2 linked regions of the Homo sapiens genome follow. The protein of the gene in region 2 purifies or fractionates together with the protein of the main gene of each other region. This does not show direct contact. Each region holds a gene or a part of one and is shown on either strand. Other genes may lie near its edges. The genes, in order: USP48 and BRAT1.

Region 1 (4,633 bases), on a different chromosome or scaffold from region 2:
GCTGTTATTTCGTAGCATTGCAGGAGGAAAAAATACCCAAGTAACAAATTTCAAAACTGTTATCAACAGCAAATTGGGGAAAATATATCAGATTTCTGGGGGCTGCTAACATGTTTATGTCAATCCCCAAAAAGAACCTTCTCTGGCCAACAAGCTTCTTTGTAAGGAAAAGGAAGTGGCTTCAATCAAGCATTGTGCGAACTTTTATAAAAGTCTTTACCTTGGGAAAGAAGAAGTTTGTGTTATTAGTTTTAGGCTCCTGCATTCATTTCTTTGGAGCTAATAAAACAATGAGATCTAAAAATCAGGATCCATCAGCTCAACTTCAAGTCCTTCCCCTGTGCCAACCTCAAGGCCAGAACAGTTGGTCCCTTGGTTCCACTCCTAGGATGGTTTCTCAGGGGGCTGTGTGCAGCTCTCACCTTCCCCCATAGATAGGCTCATTAGAGACCCCCTGCCTCCTCAGGGGACACAGACTGAAGACATTAGAAACACAGAGGGGAAACACAAACACGAAGTTAGAATTTTACCAAATGGCCGTAATTACTCTGACAAAAGGAGCTATTCAAAAGGGATGCTGCCAAGGTTATCGGGTCTCAAATCAAAATCTGCCTTCCCCATCCATGATCTGAGTTCACATTTTCATGAAAGGGGGAAAAAGCCTTGCACAAACCCAAGGCCAAGAAAAGTGTTAACAAGAGAGATGCCTAAGCTAGCATCTCAGCCACAAACTTACACAGACGGACTCAACAGAGAAAACTTTTTTTTTTTTTTCAAAGGAAAAACTCCAGTCTTAAGTTCAATTAAAAAAACCCCTTCAATATTCTTAAGAATATTGCTTCGGTTACGTGTTGCTAAGAATGATAATCCTGAGTTGGATGGACAGCACATCCATATACTTTTTTCCTTTTTTAAACAATGATCTAAGAGACCCTCTCAGGGCATTTTGGAATAATGCTTTCAAAAAGAGAACTGAGGTCCAAGAAACAGTGACATGGAGGACAGGAAGAACAAATTTTATAGAAACCTTGTGTTATCCAAATGTACTTCAGTCTGATTTACTCTTCTGATAGGTAGTCAGATTTTTTATTTTCAAACGTGCCAGGTACATTTCCCACTTTTGAATAACAGCAAAACCGGAAGAGGATGCTTTCACACATAATAAATGTTCTCCATCCTTTCTGAAATGCACCAAAGCAAAAAGCCTCTGAAGTCAAAACATGAGACATAATTCCTTGCTCATTGCAGGAGACATGCAGGTGCCCCCTCCTTTACCCAATACCAAGAGACAGACGGCCGGGCAGGTGTAAGGCGGGTGGCGCTGCAGCTGACATGGAGAAGAGTCTAAATCTGAAGACACTTTTCCACACTTAGGACAAGTTCTTCACTTTCATGCTTTATTGAAAGTAGAATATGAATCAAAGACAGGCATTGGTAAGCAGGTTATGTCTCTAAAATTACTTTTCGTTCAGAGCAGAATGTTGTCCCATCTACTTGATACAATCCTTTATGGACCAACGCATCTGGTATGAAACTCGAGCAAGGAAATATAACAGAACTTTATTCCCCTCCCACGACTATAAATCTCATATGTAAACATGATTTACTATTACTGCTACTAAACTTGTTCCGTCTTTACTTGCCCCCTCCCACCCACCACCCCCCTTAAATATAAAATTGGAAACATTTCCTTCAAGTCTGATGTCCATCAGTGCAATCTGCTTTATTTGACATAAGGCATTTGGGACAGTCACGTTTGAATGGATTTCTGCCTTTTGGAAGGGGCATGTAATGGTTTAATTCTTAAATCCACCTTTGCTTTAATGCCCTAACATGTCAAACTCCTCTTCCCCTCTGGTCATTTCTTAGCAGTCAGCAAGTATTCAAAGATTAATGTCCAAGAAGACCAGTACCTGGGAAAAGAAACACACGTGGAGGGATAGTTGTGAACTACAGATTAAAAGTTCATGGATTCCATTTACCAAGAACACATCATCAACAGGGAGCATCAAATTTAATAAATGAACACAGTCGCACCTTGGTGTGGGAGGATAAGACAAAATACCAGCAGACTCCAGGCTCTCCGCTAAATCACATTTTTGTTGAAAGCCATGTGCTTCCTAAGTGTATCTTCACACAAACTAACCAGATTTTATTGATTCTTTCATTTAATGACCATTCTTCTTTTCTGAGAGTTTCACTCTTGTCGCCCAGGCTGGAGTGCAGTGGTGCAATCCTGGCTCACTGCAACCTTATCTCCCAGGTTCAAGCATTCTCCTGCCTCAGCCTCCCAAGTAGCTGAGATTACAGGCGCACGCCACCATGCCCGGCTAATTTTTGTATTTTTAGTAGAGATGGGGTTTCACCATGTTGGCCAGACTGGTCTCGAACTCCTGACCTCAAGTGACCCACCCGTCTCAACCTCCAAAAGTGCTGGGATTACAGGCGTGAGCCACCATGCCCGGCCAATGACCATTTTTCATAAAGACGTTTTTTGCTTTGTTTTGACCCCATCAGGAGTCCCTTTGTAATGGTAGCATGCAGACAACACAGCTGCAGCAAGAGGAAGACTTTATTTTGGCCAGTAGATTTGTCTCTCATTTGCTTTAGCAAGGAATAGCTGGTATGTGATTCAAAGTCATTCCTTAGAAAATCACAACCTGCCAGGGGCTTCTGGAGTGGCCAGCAAAGAATCAAGACAGCAACAGGAAAATCCGAAAACGTCAGAGGTCTGTATTTGATGACTTCTTGAATATTATCGGTGTGCACAACTACATGGCCCAGATGTAGTACGAGCACCACCGTGTCTCCTCTTGAAGTAATAATCCAACAAATGCCTTAATGCTAAGTGATTAATTAAATCTTTTCACTGGACTTGATAAAACCTGACAAATTCTTGTGCCACTAATTCTTAATAGTTACACACTGTTTTGCTCTAGGAGGGGACTTGATAGGAAGAACTGGGAAAAGGTTAAAAATAAATCTTGAAATGCCACTAGCTAATTTCCCAACCTCCCATAAAATGAGAAAGGGAAGGCCAAATGGACATCTGGCAAGAAACAGTTCTAACACAAAAGCCCCAGCTGAGGCCCCATTTGAGGCCTGAGTGTTGAAAAAGATAATGAAGAAGCTTGAGTAAGAAATGCATTTAACTAAAATTAATTTCAGTCATGAGACTCAGATTGGATTAAAATTTAAAATCAAATTATAGCCTTCGCTTTAACAGAAAATTACAGGATGACTCTGACATTCATGAACAAAACATGACAAATGTAACTTACCTTTAAACCCTTCTTCTGGCATACAAACTGAAAAAAAGAAAAAAAGAAGAATTCCAAATTGAAAAGATTGTCGTGACAGACAGTAATATCATTTCAATGCTTAAAGACAAAAGTTTAAAATAACTTTTGATTACCTTTGTCACCTGTAATAATCATCTTTGAAGTTACGGATGTTACTAATTTCAGAACAATCTTTGTTTCTGTTTTTATCAAAGCAATACGTATGCATCATTTAAAAAGTCAAATACTGACAGGACAAGGTTTGTAACTAGGGCACACCTAGTGCACGACTCTAGGAGTGGCCTGGGAGGAAGCCATGTAACTGACTCCTCTGGAGCTGTCTCTCTCCCCTTCCTCCTCCCATTCCCAAGTTCTGGAAGGAGTCACTTTTGACTCACACAGCAGCTTCTTCTGGTATTTAGCCTATTTCTAAATAACATGCTTTTCATAATTTTATTTACTTTTTTTTTTTGAGAGGGTGTCCAGCTCTGTCACCCAGAATGGAGTGCAGTGGCATGATCTCGGCTCACTGCAACCTCTGCTTCCTGGGTTCAAGCAATTCTCCTGCCTCAGCTTCCCAAGTAGCTGGGATTACAGGCACCCACCACCACACTTGGCTAATTTTTGTATTTGTAGTAGAGACAGGGTTTCACCACGTTGGCCAGGCTCGTCTCGAACTCTTGACCTCAAGTGATCCGCCCGCCACAGCCTCCCAAAGTGATGGGATTACAGGAGTGGGCCATCGTGCCTGGCCTACTTCATAATTTTAGATAAAAATCTAATAAATTCTTCAGTGAAGGATACAAACAGCTGTTTTACCACTTACATAGCACCTGCCCCGACCCATCCTCCTGATGAAGTGGTGTTTGTTGTTGTTAAGCCAGTCTCCAGCGCTGGCATTACTTTTTACGCCATTAATACTAGTCACAGTTGAATGCCTTGGTGCACCTTGGTTATATTTACTACATGGTATGACTTGGTCTTTCTGGGCTTGGTAACTACTGAATTACTGATGTGTTTCATTTTCTCTGTATTTATCTCCAATTCACGTGTAAATTCTTAAAGACCTGTAACCTCTTGAAGACAGTCATCATCCCTTCCACTTTTCCTTGTGGCATCCCTTCCTGAAGCTCGCATCCCACCACTCCAATATGGATCAGGTGTCTTCGCTGCCTGCTGAAGAACAGTAGTTCTGAGACTTCCCTTCACCATCTTCTAGGGCATCTTATCCTAGGCTGATCTGCTATTTACTGGGTCCACTGTTGATTCTTTCTTGATTTAATGTTTAAGAAGAAGAACACATCCTCACACAGTATCATGGCAGACGGTGCATGACAGATCAATCTTTTGAA
Region 2 (7,281 bases):
GGCGGTCGCAGTCAAACAAGGCACAAAAGGCGAAGTCAAAGAGCCCCACGTGGCAGAGAGCCCTCAGTGCCTCGGTGAGTGGCTGGGCTGGGGCCACCTCGGGTAGGGCCACGGCATAGGGGCAGTGGGTACGCGGCGGCCCCAAAGTCTGGCCCAGGAACACGAGGGCCAGCTCCAGGCCCTGGGCGCGGACCTCCCAGTCCAGGTCTCGGCTCGCCGCCTGCAGCACAGTGGCCACGAACTGCTCCGTGTCCTGGGCCGCGTCGGCGTGGCCGTCCCGCAGCCACTCAGTGAAGACTTGCATGACCGCCCGCCGTGGGAAGCCCTCCGAGTCTACGGAGAGGATGTGCAGGAGCTCCAGGAACAGGCTCTGGGGGACAGGGAGCAAGTGCGGATGGTTGGTGGGGTGGCAGGAGCGAGGCTCCCGCAACAGGACTCCGGTACATGATGGGGGCTGGCCCCGGACATGCAGTCTAGGGCCACAGCCCGCTCTGACACCTTCCCATGCTGCGCAGTGAGCACACGGCCCTCCAATCCTCAGTTTACCCATCTGTCAAATGGAGGTAACCATGTCTAAGTGGAGGGGTGCTGGGGAGACAGAAGGCGAAGCGCACAGGTCCCACACCCAGCACAGCCCCAGGGCCTCGGCAGTCACTGCTGCAGGCGCTGCCCACAGCAGCAGCTGCTCCCACGCTGCATGCTGGCCGCTCGACCACCCGCAAGCAAACGAGCACACACGATGGCCAGGCGGGAGTTGCTGGCTGAGGAACCTGCCACCTCCTACCTGCCGGGCCTCTGCATGCTCAGGGCTGGTGGGGGCGTGCAGGCCCTGGCTGGACAGCTGCCCCATGGCGGTCACTGCACTCGCTCGGACATAACTCTCAGGGTCCTGGAGGAGCTGCAGGGCCAGCTGAGGCACCTCTGAAGCCAAGAGTGCGCATCTGAAGTCAGCCTGTCCTGGGGGTCGAAACGGCCACATGCAGCTGTGACTGAGGGCCGAGCCTTGTCGCCTCGGCCTCTGCCTCCATCCCCTTGTGGGCAGCCGACATGGCCCAAGTTTCTAGAGCCAGCAAGAGGCTGCTGGTGCACCCTGGCTCAGTGAGCCCCCCACAGGCGGGGAAGGCAGCCCCTCCACCTGCCAGCACTCACCTCCCCAGTGCCTGCTCAGCTGGGTCAGGAACTCGAGGGCGGAGTCCCTCACCTCCCAGCAGGGGTGGCACAGGCGTTTCTGCAGCACAGGGAACAGCTCTAGGGTGGGAAGGGACAGGTCAGGGTGACCTTGGGGCCAGGCTCACCCTGCCCTCAGAGCCAGCTGAGCCATTCCACCCAGCCCCTGCTGCCTCCACCCCTGCGACTCCAGCTCCGTTCACCCCTGCAAGGGGCTGCGTTACCTCTGAGGAACTGCGGGATGAGGGGGCCGAGATCAGAGCAGCCGGGGGTCTTGGGTGAGCTCAGGAGCCACCTGAGCGTGGCCTGGAAGGCCTTCTTCAGAACCTGGAGCAGATAGGGTGGGCTGCAGGGCCACGGGAGACGGAGGGGCAGGCTGTCTGTCTGTCCCCCTCGCCTTCACCTGTGCTGCCCGTACTCCAGGGACAGCAATGGGGACAGGAAGTGGAGAGAGAAGGGAACGCTGGGCTTCCTTCTTTTTTAGAGACAGGGTCTCAATGTGTCATCCAGGCTGGACTGCAATCACAGTTCACTGCAGCCTCCACCTCCCAGGCTCAAACAGTCCTCCTGCCTCAGCCTCATGAGTAGCTGGGGCTAGAGGCACACATCACCACGCCTGGCTAATTTTTGCAGTCAAATGCTCTACCCCTGAGCTATACTCCTGGGGCTAATTTTTCTATTTTTTTGTAGAGATGGGATCTTGCTATGTTGCCCAGGCTGGCCTCAAAAGTCCTGGGCTCCATTGATCCCCCCACCTCGGCCCCCCAACGCACAGTAATCACAGCTGTGAGCCCCACGCCCCTCCTGGGCTGATTTTAATAGGGCAGAATATGCTGCAGAACCGGCTTCCCAGACTGTGAGCAGGAGGAGGTGGTGGCAGCCCTCACCAGAAGACCCACAACCCAGGCAACGGGATTTCTACATCAAAACATGACCAATTACGCAGGGCACCTTTTCCTTAGGATCCCAAGAAGCCCTGGGCCCTTCCTCCAAAGTTGTCTGCTGTCTGCTCAGCGGCAGGTGGCACAAGGTCTGTACCTGCCAGGGCCCAGCTCCGTGAGGGGCTGTGGAGTAGGCACATTCACAAATGGCGCTTAGGAGAACCCAAAGCCCACGCCCAGGGCCGTCTTGGTGCCACCTCATTTCCCTTGTCCAGAATTCCCCGCAGGCCGCCTGACCAGTGCCCCTGCTCCCCACGGCCCCACACACCCCTGCGTGCTGATGTATCTTCACCAACAAGAGGCCCTGGGCCCGCCCCATGCAGCCACCTGCATCGTGAAGCTCTCTGAGCAGCAGCTCTGTGGCCCTGTGTGAAGGCCCCATCCGCAGAGGCCTGCACGGGACGGGGTGGAGTCAGGGGTGGGTCCCACTGCCTCTGCCTCCCTCCTCTCCTCGCTCTCTATCCCCACCACCGTACCGTGGGGCTGGAGCCGGGGCTCTCGAGGCACTCCAGGAGGACAGCAAGCGCCTGCGTCACCAGCTCCTGGGGGCCTGAGACAGAGGTGAGTGGATAAACCACCCCCACCCCCACCCTAGGACCCTCCCCATCAACTCTGGGAAGGAGCAGAACAAGGCCTCATCCGCCAGCTGAAACCTCCTGCACGGCCCCTGCACCCCTCAGCCCCCACCCCAGAGAAGAAACAGAGAGGGACAGCAGTTCCCGGGTGCCTCCGAGCAGAAAGGAGAGTGGGGGCACAGGGATAGCCCCACGCCAAAGCCGTACAGAACACACTCACCTGTCCCCTGTGACAGCGTCCCCAGGAAGTCGAGGGCTGCTCGCTGGACCCGGACGCAGCCCGCCAGGGTCCCACAGAGGTGGCCCCCCACACTGGAGGCAGGGGCAGCCGAGCCGTCACAGAGCCGCAGGACAGTCACTGTAGCCCCCAGTAGAGACGCCTGGGGCCACGGTGAAGGGCGCTGGGGCTGCGAGGAAGAGGGCCGTCAGCCAAGGTTGCGGTCCCACTGCCGGCGTGGATGCAGGGGTGCTGGGACTTCGAGGCATGTGGGGCGGGGGACATCAGCCAAGGTTGTGGTCCCACTGCTGGCGTGGATGCAAGGGTGCTGGGGCAGCAAGGGGTGGGGGGCGTCAGCCTACGTTGCGGTCCCACCGCCAGCGTGGATGCTGCTGGGCTGCATGAGGACCGGGCCGCACCTACCAGCGGCTGCAGCTCCTCCAGGTGAGCCAGGGTGCGGCACAGGAGGCCGGCGCAGGACGACTTGGAGGCCAGGAGTGTGTCCACCGTCGTGGCATCGTCTGCCGTCCCGTCCAGCAAGCCTGGGGGCCAAGCCAGGAAGAGCTCCCTTAGAGAGCACTTCAGCCTCCCCACGGTCACCAGCCACCCCACGGTCACCACCCACAGCACAGGCCAGGACCTAGGTGCAGAGCAGCAGCTCACCAGGGGAGATGGCCATGTCCCCGGTCCCCTTTGCTCTTGGAGGGAGGCCTGGGTGTGATTAAAGTGGGGCGGGGGTGGCGAGCCAGCTACTCTCATCCATCTCCCTTCCCCCAGCCGCAGGGACCCAGGTTCTGCCCTCCCAGCCCTTTCTAAGCAGCACACCTGGGGGTCCGGGGGCCTGAACCGTGGCCTTCAGGACACAGGCCAGGGGCTGGAGAAGGACCTGGAAGGCCTGGGTCCTCAGTGCCTGTGGACTGGAGACAAACGCGAGGTGAGTGCCGCGACCCTGGCTGCGAGACAAGTTGGCTGTGCTCCTAATGTCCCCAGCAAGCCTGGGGCAAATCAGCCAGGGGGTTGGGACACCCCCCGAGAAACATTCTCTGCAGGCCACTGGCCAGGGGATGCCATGGGACAGAGTGGCGGGGAGGACAGGCCTGACCAAGGAGATGGGCCTGACACTCCTGATGTCCTTAGGAGCAGATACTGAGGGGCCTCCAGGAGGGCCTGGCCATGCACCCAGAGAGAGGGGCAGTGCCCGCTCAGGGGGACAGGGATGGGGTGCCCCCAGGTGTGTACAGCGTCCACTCTGTGGGAGGGACCTGCCCTCACGTCTGGGCCTAGGTGGAGGCAGTGTCCCCACAATGCATTCCTGCAGGGCCGGGCCTGTTCCTCCATCCTCCCCCGGTCTACTCTCTCCTAAACATTCGGAGACCCCGGAGCTCAGAGCTGGACCCTCATGGTACCCCTGGGCCCTGTGGGCAGCAGGTCCTGAGGTCACTTCCACCCCTATTGTGAGCCCACCTGGAACACTGGCAGGCCATCCACGGCCTTCCCACCTGTCCTGACCCCAGGCTCTGCCGTTGCACCGCCCCCAGGCCCCCCACCCGCATGGTGTGTGTGCTGGGGAGCTCCGAAACCCCCAACCAAAGCTGCGGTGGGGGACAGGTGGGAGGGCAGCGGAGCGCAGGGCGTCGGCAGGACCACCCTGCTCTGAGCAGAGCAGCTCCCGCATCCTTCTCACCTCTGGGGATCTCGCAGAGCTTTGGTCTGAAACAATTATTCTGTTGCTAAAGAACCTTCAGAAGCTGCCGCGCGCAACCCACGCACCACCCAGTCACACCCCGCACGGCCGCCTGACTGTCCCTGGTGTCCGGAACTCCCCTGCCATGAGGGCTGCGCTCTCAACCTCCCTGCCTGCCCCAGCTCCCAGCACCCGCCTCGGAATGAAATGCACCCCAGACCATACCAGTGCTCGAGCTTCAGGATCCCCAAAGCCAGGGGTCCCATGTGGGTGGGACCCAGGCAGCTCAGAGCCCGCGCCACTGTCTCCCACAGGCTGCCGTCGGAAGAACTGAACACGGGAGAACTGCAGGGAGACCCCAGAGAGAAAAATTACTCCCCCACCCTCAAAACCCCATTCGAGGCCTGGCTGAGACTGCCATGGCTCCGGCACTGGAGGCGCCCAGCCCAAGACAGGCCTTTCCCCATGAGGGTTCCAGGGTCACCCCGGTGCCGCTTCACTGCAGGCCATGTCCTCAGAGAGTCTCCGGCTGCCAGTGGGACATCCCTGGGCGTTATCCGAGGAAAACAGTTGCCCACCCAGGCCCCCCAGCTGCGTCCCGGGGCCCTGACCGAGCCACACAGAGAAGCAGGTCCACGAACGAGTGTGCGGCGGGGATGGGGTCTCTCTCCAGCAGACAGGCCACGCGGGGACTCAGCCGCACCCACAGGGCTTCCGTCCAGGGGCTCTGGCAGCGCCCGAAGGTCGTGGTCAGGACGTTCAGGGCCTGAGTGACCTTGGGGGTGGCCGCGGAGCACAAGGACTCTTCAACGTGATCCATGATCTTCTGGGCACACGCGGGCCAGTCACCCCCCGGCAGGCAGGGCTGCCCCTCGGCTCCACCTCGCATGGACAAAGCCAGGACGTGCACCAGGAGCTGACTGGCCGCCGAGGCCACAAACAGGCTGGAGTCTCCCTGCAGGGAGAAGATGGTGTCGACCGCACCTGGGTAGGGGATGGGGGAAGAGAGGGAAAAGGGGGTGAGCCAGAATAGAGCTGGGGGAGGCAGAGGGCCTCAGGGAAGATACAAATAGCAGAGGGCCCCCCAAGATGCCCCCAAATGCCTCTCCACTCAAAAGCAAAAAAGAACAGGAACTGAAGCTCCCTGGAGACAAGCACCTCCTCCCCCCGAGCGTTAAACACACACAGCTTGTGATGCTTCCCAATTCGTTCCTTCTTGTTGTTTTTTTTTTTTTTTTTTTTGAGACAGAGTCTTGTTCTGTTGCCCAGGGTGGAGTACAATGGTGCGATCTCAGTTCACTGCAACTTCCACCTCCCAGGTTCAAGCCATTCTGCCACCTCAGCCTCCCAAGTAGCTGGGATTACAGGCACCCGCCATCATGCCCGGCTAATTTTTGTATTCTCGTAGAGACAGGGTTTCACCATGTTGGCCAGGCTGGTCTTGAACTCCTGACCTCAGGTGATCCACCCGCCTCGGCCTCCCAAAGTGCTGAGATTACAGGCGTGAGCCACCGTGCCCAGCCTCGTTTCTTGTTTTTTTGAGACGGGGTCTTGCTCTGTTGCCTAAGTTGGAGTGCAGTGGCTCAACCACTGCTCACTGTAGCCTCGAACCCCTGGGCTCAAGTGATCCTCTTGCTTCAGCCTCCCGAGTAGCTGGGACTATAGCCACGCATCACCACGCCTGGCTCCCAAATAGTTTCAAAGACTGAGTCCTCACGGCTGATCTGTAAGTGGCTGAGAAAGCCGTCCTGGCTCCTAGGGCCTGACCTGCCAACCAGAGAACACTGGACAGCCGTACTGTCACAGTGCAGTCTTTGCAACAACCCTGAGACATCGCACAGACCAGACACTCAGATTCAGCAAGGTGCAGTGAATTCCCTGGGATCACACAGGCAGGATGAGGAATGGGGTGGGGTGTGGGCGCACTCACCATGGTCGGCCAGGAAGCGCAGGGCGCTGGGGTGCTGTGCCAGGGAGCGCAGGCCCTGGATCCAGCCGCTGCGCACGGTGGGGACGGCCCAGGTTGCTCGGCCGAGGGGTCCTGGCTCCCCAAAGAGCCCTGGTAGTAACTCCCCCTGCTGGGAAGCAAAAAAAGAAGTGAGGGTGGCCAGGCGCAGTGGCTGAAGCCTGTAATCCCAGCACTTTGGGAGGCCGAGGAGGGCAGATCACGAGGTCAGGAGTTCGAGACCAGCCTGACCAACATGGTGAAACCCCATCTCTACTAGAAATACAAAAATTTGCTGGGTGTGGTGGCATGCACCTGTAATCCCAGCTACTAAGAAGGCTGAGGCAGGAGAATTGCTTGAACCCGGGAGGCGAAGGTTGCAGTGAGCCAAGATCGCACCACTGCACACCAGCCTGGGTGACACAGCGAGACTCCATCTCAAAAAAAAAAAAAAAAAAAAAAAAAAAGAGGTGAGGGGACCTGGTAGGTTTCCAGGGATGTGGAGCAAAGCAGAGATGGGTTTTCAGTTTTCCAGGGCTGGTGGAGATACTTCTGGAGGACACTTTCTTCTTCTTTTTTTTTTTTTTGAGACAGTCCCACTCTGTTGCCTAGGCTGGAGTGCAGTGGCACATCTCGGCTCACTGCAACCTCTGCCTCCTGGGCTCAAGCTATTTTCCTGTCTCAGCCTCCTGAGTAGCTGGCATTACAGGTGCCCACCACCACACCCAGCTAATTTTTTCATTTTTAGTAGA

What was found.
Region 1: the proteins of BRAT1 (region 2) and USP48 purify together in Homo sapiens (affinity purification with mass spectrometry; 2 studies listed by BioGRID, with this or other methods). This does not show direct contact.

The regions. Positions count from the first base shown.
Region 1 is NC_000001.11:21,677,527-21,682,159, forward strand, and holds the end of USP48 (ubiquitin carboxyl-terminal hydrolase 48), read right to left. Parts: intron 3,309-4,633; coding exon 3,282-3,308; intron 1,914-3,281; coding exon 1,891-1,913; 3' UTR 772-1,890; downstream 1-771.
Region 2 is NC_000007.14:2,538,395-2,545,675, forward strand, and holds part of BRAT1 (integrator complex assembly factor BRAT1), read right to left. Parts: intron 6,663-7,281; coding exon 6,515-6,662; intron 5,569-6,514; coding exon 5,196-5,568; intron 4,930-5,195; coding exon 4,810-4,929; intron 3,818-4,809; coding exon 3,726-3,817; intron 3,443-3,725; coding exon 3,324-3,442; intron 3,091-3,323; coding exon 2,904-3,090; intron 2,659-2,903; coding exon 2,585-2,658; intron 2,501-2,584; coding exon of another isoform or gene 2,377-2,500; intron 1,514-2,376; coding exon of another isoform or gene 1,495-1,513; coding exon 1,392-1,494; intron 1,249-1,391; coding exon 1,150-1,248; intron 958-1,149; coding exon 785-957; intron 551-784; coding exon of another isoform or gene 371-550; coding exon 1-370. UniProt on the Homo sapiens protein: Component of a multiprotein complex required for the assembly of the RNA endonuclease module of the integrator complex.